Linked DNA regions of Homo sapiens. The protein of the gene in region 2 purifies or fractionates together with the protein of the main gene of each other region. This does not show direct contact. Each region holds a gene or a part of one and is shown on either strand. Other genes may lie near its edges.

What was found.
Region 1: the proteins of GRPR (region 2) and GPR89A purify together in Homo sapiens (affinity purification with mass spectrometry, with the first as the bait; 2 studies listed by BioGRID). This does not show direct contact.

What each region holds. Positions count from the first base shown.
Region 1 is NC_000001.11:145,606,368-145,610,118, reverse strand, and holds the start of GPR89A (Golgi pH regulator A), read right to left. Parts: upstream 2,132-3,751; 5' UTR 1,986-2,131; coding exon 1,944-1,985; intron 1,502-1,943; exon of another isoform or gene 1,444-1,501; intron 1-1,443. UniProt on the Homo sapiens protein: Voltage-gated channel that enables the transfer of anions such as iodide, chloride, bromide and fluoride which may function in counter-ion conductance and participates in Golgi acidification.
Region 2 is NC_000023.11:16,126,476-16,130,226, reverse strand, and holds part of GRPR (gastrin-releasing peptide receptor), read right to left. Parts: intron 1-3,751. UniProt on the Homo sapiens protein: Receptor for gastrin-releasing peptide (GRP). Signals via association with G proteins that activate a phosphatidylinositol-calcium second messenger system, resulting in Akt phosphorylation. Contributes to the regulation of food intake.

The DNA of each region.
Region 1 (3,751 bases), on a different chromosome or scaffold from region 2:
GCCCGCAACTGATCTAGATGCTGGTGAATACAGGAGAGAACAAGACAGACAGTATCTTGGACCTCATGGACAGATAACAAACACATGAATATACAAATGAACCATAGTAATAAATGCCAAGAAGAAAATAAAACATGGAAATGAGGAAGAAGGCAGCCGAAATGGAAAGCTACTTTGGTTGTGGGCAGGGTGTCAGGTAAGACCTTCCTAAAGCGACATTTTTATTAATACCGAAAGGATGATAAAGTAGCCACATAAATATCTGAACAGAGAACATTCCATGCAAAGGAATCTTTGGGTCTTTCTTCCACATTTGTAAAAACCAGGTTTAACAATTAATTACTGCATGTGGATGCATGTGTGAAGTGAAAGTCTATGATTATAAGGCATACAAAATTAGAAAGCCACTTCCTCGGTTCAACGTATCAATTATATCCATGCTAAAAATCGTAGAGGCTGCAATGCAAAGCCAATTTTCTACTGACATTCTTATCTTTATTCTAAATGAAAAGAAAAGCTAATTAAATATTGTTATTTTTCTTAAATTGGTACTAAGGCTAAAAATAACCCTGAGTTGTCACCAAGGGCACTGGGTAGTCTTAGAAAGGTTTTAAGCAGAAGAGTTACATGTCTAGGTTTTTTTACATTAATACATTTGAATATTATGCAGCCAATAAAAACAATACTTATGAAAACTATAGAAAAGGTGGTAAATTTTAAAAATGAAAAAACTATTGCATTAGAGTGGTAGGATTATGGATGGCTTTTCCTTCTTTCTTATTTTCTTAAATATTGTAAACAAGTTTTTGAAGAGAAAAGGACAATGCTCCGCTCTACGGAGACGAGTATTAGGATGAAGCAATACAAAAACGGAATCAAAGAACACAAATTTAGTTCACTTTAAGCCCCCAAAGGTAACTGCTTCTGTTATTTGCCGTTTGAGAGAAAGAACAAGTAAAAACAACCACACACACACAAAATCTTTATTGGAAAGATGGGGGGAAGAAGGTCAACAGGCAGTCTGAGCTTCACAAATATTGGCCAACAATTATTTATTGAATGCCTGCACTTGGAAGTGGGGATACAGCTATGAACAAGGCAGGATCTCAAAAAACAAAATCAGAAACACAGACATAAATGATGCCAGTGCTATGATGAATGCTAGGAAGAAACAATAATTAACAATAGATTACATGGTAAAAGCAAGAGGCTAACTAGACGAAACTTCTATTGAGCAGAGACAGTGTCTTACATGTTTTTACGCTCAGAGCTTTATATAATGGTCGATAAATGTTTGTTGACTGTACAAACAAATGAAGGTGGCCAATGGAGAAGAAATGAGGGTCAGAAAAACATCCGGAAAAGGTGGGTAACTAAGCAGAGGATAAAGGACGAGGTGTCAGTGCAAAAACGAAACCTTATACTTTCAAGCACAGGTATTACCTTATACTGATACTTTGAAGCAGCAAATTTCTCCACACCCGGATTCAGGATTTGACATCTAACAGCAAAGCCTGCACTGACGTGTCCTCAGTATCCAGTATTGGCGCGTCGCACACCGCGCGCCCAGAACCACACAGGCTTCCCCAGTCCAGGATCAGTTGGCGCAGCCCGGAAGCTTCGAGGAGCTCCTAGAACCGCCGCCTTAGCTGGCGGCGCCGGCTCTTAGCCTGGAGGTCGGCGGACCGCTTCCAAAAGTGGACCGAAATTCCGGGGATGGATGCCGGGTGGGGACGCGGACGGCCGCAGGCCAGTCTCCTGACAGCCGGGGCTGAGGGAACCGGCCGCAGCAAATCGCACACCCTCTCTGGGTGCCAGAGTGACTAGCGCAGGACGCGTAAGAGAGGAGCGAGACCCCGGACCAGCCCGCACCGCGGAGGACCGGAGAGGGCGATTCGGTAAAGGGAGGCGGACGGGTGTCGGGGCGGGAGGCGGTGACTCACCTGGGAGGTAATCATGATGCTGGAGTCGATGAGGAAACTCATGGCGAAGTGTAAGGAAGGCTCCTGCCTCCACTTCCCACTCCCCGAGGCCACAGCACGCTGGGGCCACAGGCCCCCTCACACGGTCTGCCTTCTCCCAGGTGCTGCAGCCGGGACTGCGGCTCTCCAGCCCGACGCCATCAAGCTGCGCCCCAGTCAGCCAATCAGCGTCTACATCCACAGCCCCGCCTCGGGCTCGGGGTGGGTGGGGCGGACGCTAGGCTCCCGCCGCGGAGGCCCCAGGGGCGGGGCTTATTAGGGGCGGTGCTAAAAGCAGCAATGCAAGGTAGCGTTAACGTTTCTGAGGCTGAAGGAGGTAGGGCCTGAGAGCTAAGTGGTAATTCTGTTTTGTAATGATCCTAAGATAATAATGGTAATTATAGTAAGTCGGGCATTGTGTCCTAAATGTTATAACTTTTACTTGACTCGGCAAATATGACTGTACAAAGTGAGGGAAGACTGGAAAGTCAGATGAGATATGAACAAATATAACTAACCAAATACATTTCTGTGACAACAATGAAAAGCACACTGTCTGTAGCAATTTAGTGATAATATTGTACTGCATATCAGTCAGGCCACAGGTGGAGTACTGCACTCCATGTACCACACTTTGAAGAGATTTTACAGGCCGGGCCGGCTCACGCCTGTAATCCCAGCACCTGGGGAGACCAAGGCGGGCGGATCACCTGAGGTCGCAAGTTCAAAACCAGCCTGACAAGCATGGAGAAACCCTGTCTCTACTAAAAATACAAAATTAGCCGGGCGTGGTGGTGCATGCCTGTAATCCCAACTACTAGGGAGGCTGAGGCAGGAGAATCGCTTGAACCCGGGAGGGGAGGTTGCGGTGAGCCGAGATCGCGCCATTGCACTCCAGCCTGGGCAACAAGAGCGAAACTCCATCTCAAAAAAAAAAAAAAAGAAAAGAAAAAAGAAGAGAGAGATTCTACAGAGACATATTGGAGCTCGCTCAAATGTGAGCCACCAGATAAGGGCTGCTGGAAGGAGGCGAAGAAAGATGACTCAGAACATGACATCTGTCTTCATGTGAAAGAATGGGTAGAACTGATGTGGCGCTACGAATTATCTGTAGGGCAAAGGACTGGAAGTTAAATGAAGATAGATTTTAATTCAAAACAAGGATCAGTTCTTTAAGAGTCTGAAGAAGGGTTATTTTAGGAAGTAGCTGCCTCTGCCCCCTTCCCACCTATTGCAGTGGATCAAATATACACTGAATCACTACCTCATTCATTCAACACTCATTTCATGAAGGCTTAACGCATTGCTGTGGGGCTTACTCTGCCGCCGACCTGGGGCCTAGCTAGGCTTTGTAGTCTATATAGTCTCATAGTCCTGCAAACTGGCTCCAGCCCAGGAAATCACCCTGTGTAGGAGTGGCTGCAGTCAAGACGCAGGAAGACAATCCTGAGGGGACCTGACATCCAGCATCTGAGTTCAGACTACTATAGTTTGAATAAGTGATCTGCAGATTCATTATACACAAGGGAACATGTCTTCCTTTTGTTGGATTGAACTCTGTGATACCAAGCAGTCAAAACTACCTGTCAGATGTCCAATCCCTGATCCAGAATTTCAAGGAGCTATGGAGGCAGCTGTACAATGGGAGTGTCATAAACCAGAGAACTTTGTGTCCAGGCTATATCTATTAGGTAAGCAGGTAGATTCCCACATAACAGCACCTAACTGACATTCAAGAGTGTGTAGAGTGCAGAGTGCTGAAAGAGACTATCAAGGCAAGCAGTTTACCT
Region 2 (3,751 bases):
TAGAAGACACAGATCCCTATGAACCACCCCATACGATTAAGGAAGTATAAAACACATCTCTAACAAAGACCTAGTAGTACAGGATAGATTTGGCATTTAATGAACAATACAGGCAGAAACATCTTAGGAAGGGAAAAAAAATCAATGAAAGCCAAAGATCAGGGAATGCTTCATAGAAGAGAAAGGACTTGAACTATCCCTTGAAGGATTGATAGGATTTGGGTAGATGGAAAGAATAGGGCCCAGCCATCAGAGAAGGGGAAATGAAGTTAGAGGGGGAGAAGTCTGGTGGCACATGTGGGAGGCAGTGAGAAGAGTTTGGCTAGAGCAGTGTTTGTTCTGGCAAGTCTTGGGACAGGGGGATATAAAAGAGAGACTGGCAGCTGGAAGAGGACCTACAAGAAAGAATGAAAGGATCAGACACAAGTTCACAGTGGAGACCTGGAAAGCTGACCCCTCATGTCTTTGGAAAGCCTCAAAACCTCATCAATGGGATGCCTAAATTCCCCAAGCCTGTGACTACAGATGATATGGGGCTGCTTCATTTCTTCCCTCTTCACTTGTGTGTGTCTTCCAACAGAAGATATTTCACAGACAGAAAGAGCCTGTGCAGCTGGGAGGCATTTGATATTTGCCTATCTGAGGAATTCCTGATACCCTCTGTGAGAGAGAGGAGCAAACGTGTATCCTGGGGAAGAAATTTGGACCCCAAAGCATATAGCAAACTCTTTTCTAAACTGTCCAATAGAGCCCTCTGCAATGACTGAAGTGTTCTCTGTCTCCACTGCCCAATAGAGTAGCCACTAGCCACATGTGGCTACTGAGCACTTGATGTGTGGCTGGTGTGATGAGGAAATGAAATTTTCCATTTCATTTAAATTAAATGCAAATTTAAATAGCCACATGTGGTTAGTGGCTACCAAGTTAGACCATACAACTCTAGATGTCGGGAAAGCTACAAACCATGTTATCACATACATTCCTTGCAGAAAATTCAAAGAATCTGTACTTCAAGAAGTTTGCAGAAATATAACACCTTCCTGTTTCTTTCCACATTCCAAATAACAAAGAAACTTATAACCAGTCTTTCCATAGAATCAAAGAAGAATCATGTTACAGTGGAACCGCCATATCCATCTGTCCTTAGAATCCATTCTGCCAGCCCCATTCTAGTAAAAATAACACTGAATAATGGCACTGAAGCAGGCTTGATATAACTTGGGCATTACATATATTGTCAACATTAAATTCAGCTTTAAACCTTACACTTACTGGAAAAGAAAACACAAACCACGCTCACCCTTTTTCTGTTGAGGGTCCAATTCAGGTCTCAAATTTCATTTACATAATAATGAGGCACCTAGCACAAAGGTGGACATCTAATAGGAAGGACCAGTATGTAAAAAATATCTCCATCTATCCAACCATTCATCCATCTATCCACCCATCTGTCCACTCATACATGTAACCCACCCAATCAGCCAGCCAGCCATCTATCCATCCATCTGTCCACTCATACATGTAACCCACCCAATCAGCTAGCCAGCCATCTATCCATCCATCCACCCATCTATTTATCCCCTGAATCTACTTACTGACCCACAAAAAATAGTTTTTCTTTCATTTACCCAGATAATGAGAGCTTAATAGAGAACAGATGAGCAGGTGACTATGTGATACGTTATTGTTATTATTATTATTATTATTATTTTGGGATGGAGTCTTGCTCTGTCATTCAGGCTGGAGTACAGTGGCACAATGTCGGCTCACTGCAACCTCCGCCTCCTGGGTTCAAGCAATTCTCCTGCCTCAGCCTCCCAAGTAACTGGGATGACAGGCTCCTGCCACCACACCCGGCTAATTTTTGTATTTTTAGTAGAGACGAGGTTTCACCATGTTGTCCAGGCTGGTCTCAAACTCCTGACCTCAAGTGATCCACCCACCTTGGCCACCCAAAGTGCTGGGATTACAGGCGCGAGCCACTGCGCCCGGCCAATACATTATTTTTAAGAGTATGCTTTCAGATTAATCCTCAAAATAGAATGAAGAATAAGAATGAGGAAAATTGTATGCATTAACTAAACGTAATTTTAATTAGTCAATATTTATTGATCACCCATTTGGCACAAGAAAACTTGAGGGGCACTATGGAAGATTTAAGAATATATTGAAAATCTCTGCCTTCAACATTCTTAATAATCTACCTAAAAAATGTAAAGCAATGAATATATGAGAGGCTAAAATAAACAGACAAACAAAACACTTCCAAACAGCAATATAAAAGGTGTCACAAGATAATTCATGTCTCAGATAATAAGTCTGATATTTCAAGAGGGTCAGGAAATTTGAGCTAGAATGGCTCAACTTAGGGCTTTAAGGAGGAGATTTGAATCAGATTCTGAATGATAGACAAGAAGATAGAAAAAACAATCACAAGATTTTAGAACTTGAAGGGACCATAGACATTGCCTAGCTCGACTCCATCATTTTATAGATGATTAAACTAAGGTCAGAGAGTTAAGTGACTTAGTCCCACTTTCTCATACGGGTAGTAATGGCAGGAAAATGTCTAAAATGCAGGTTTGTTGATACCCATTCCAAGCCCAAATGCCACATGGGATGAGGAATACAGTCTGTATTTAGGAAAGGAGAAAGCATTCTGGAGAGCGGGTGGGACACAGCATAAGCCAGGAAACAGAGCCAGGAACACATCAGTGCAACCACTGTGTATGAGGATATCAGTGTGTGTGTAAGGACAGAAAGCATGGGAGGAGAGGGAGGATGGGGATCAATATTGAAGGTGGTTGAATGCAAACCTACAACTGCTCAGCTGTGCAAATCCCCAGAATTCTGGTTTCTGGGACTGCCTTGAAGTCTCCCTTTTACCCGGTGATGCCAGTGTAAACTTTTCTAGAAACTTGATATTCTTTTCATATTGACAAAGACTCGAATTCACCCGGTGAAGGGGGGAACTGCAGAAGGGAAGCTGGAATGAGGACTGGCAATGCTGGGCAATGTATAGGGGGCAGGGATGGATGGTTATCACTATGTGCCCCACTCATGCCTCAGAACCCTGAATTCAGTAGATTTAGGACAGGGCCTAGGAATCTGTATGTTTTTAAAGCTCCCCTGTGACTCTGGTGATCATCTGGTTTGGAGGGTCTTCTAGTTCATTCACTTTTTCACCAATCTACCTAATACAGACTACCACCTTGAAAACTGACAATATTTAGTAAATATAGGCCCCTATAACCCAGCAATTTCACTCGCAGACATATATCCAAGAAAAATAAACACTTATGTTTCCCCAAAGACATGAATAAGAATGTCCAGAGCAGGTTATCATCATCCCCAAACTAAAAACAACCCAGTGTCCATCGGTATTAGAAGGAATAAATAAACCAAAGTGTATTCATACAATGGAACACCACACACAATTAAAAAGAACAAACCACACTGTTACACGTATTAATACAGGTGAATATCACAGAGATAATGATAAGCATAAGAAGATAGATACAAAGGAGTACTTGCTATATGATTCCATTTATATGAGATTAAAGAACTGGCAAAAATAACCTATGGTGATTGGAATCAGAATAGTGATTGCCTCTGTATGGGGGTATTAACTAGGAAAGGGCATAAGAGAAACTCTGGGGGATGCTGGAACTGTTCTATATCTCCATCTGGTTATGCAGTTCTATAGACATATGTAAAAATATATTGAGCTGTTACTTGTTCAGTTTACTGT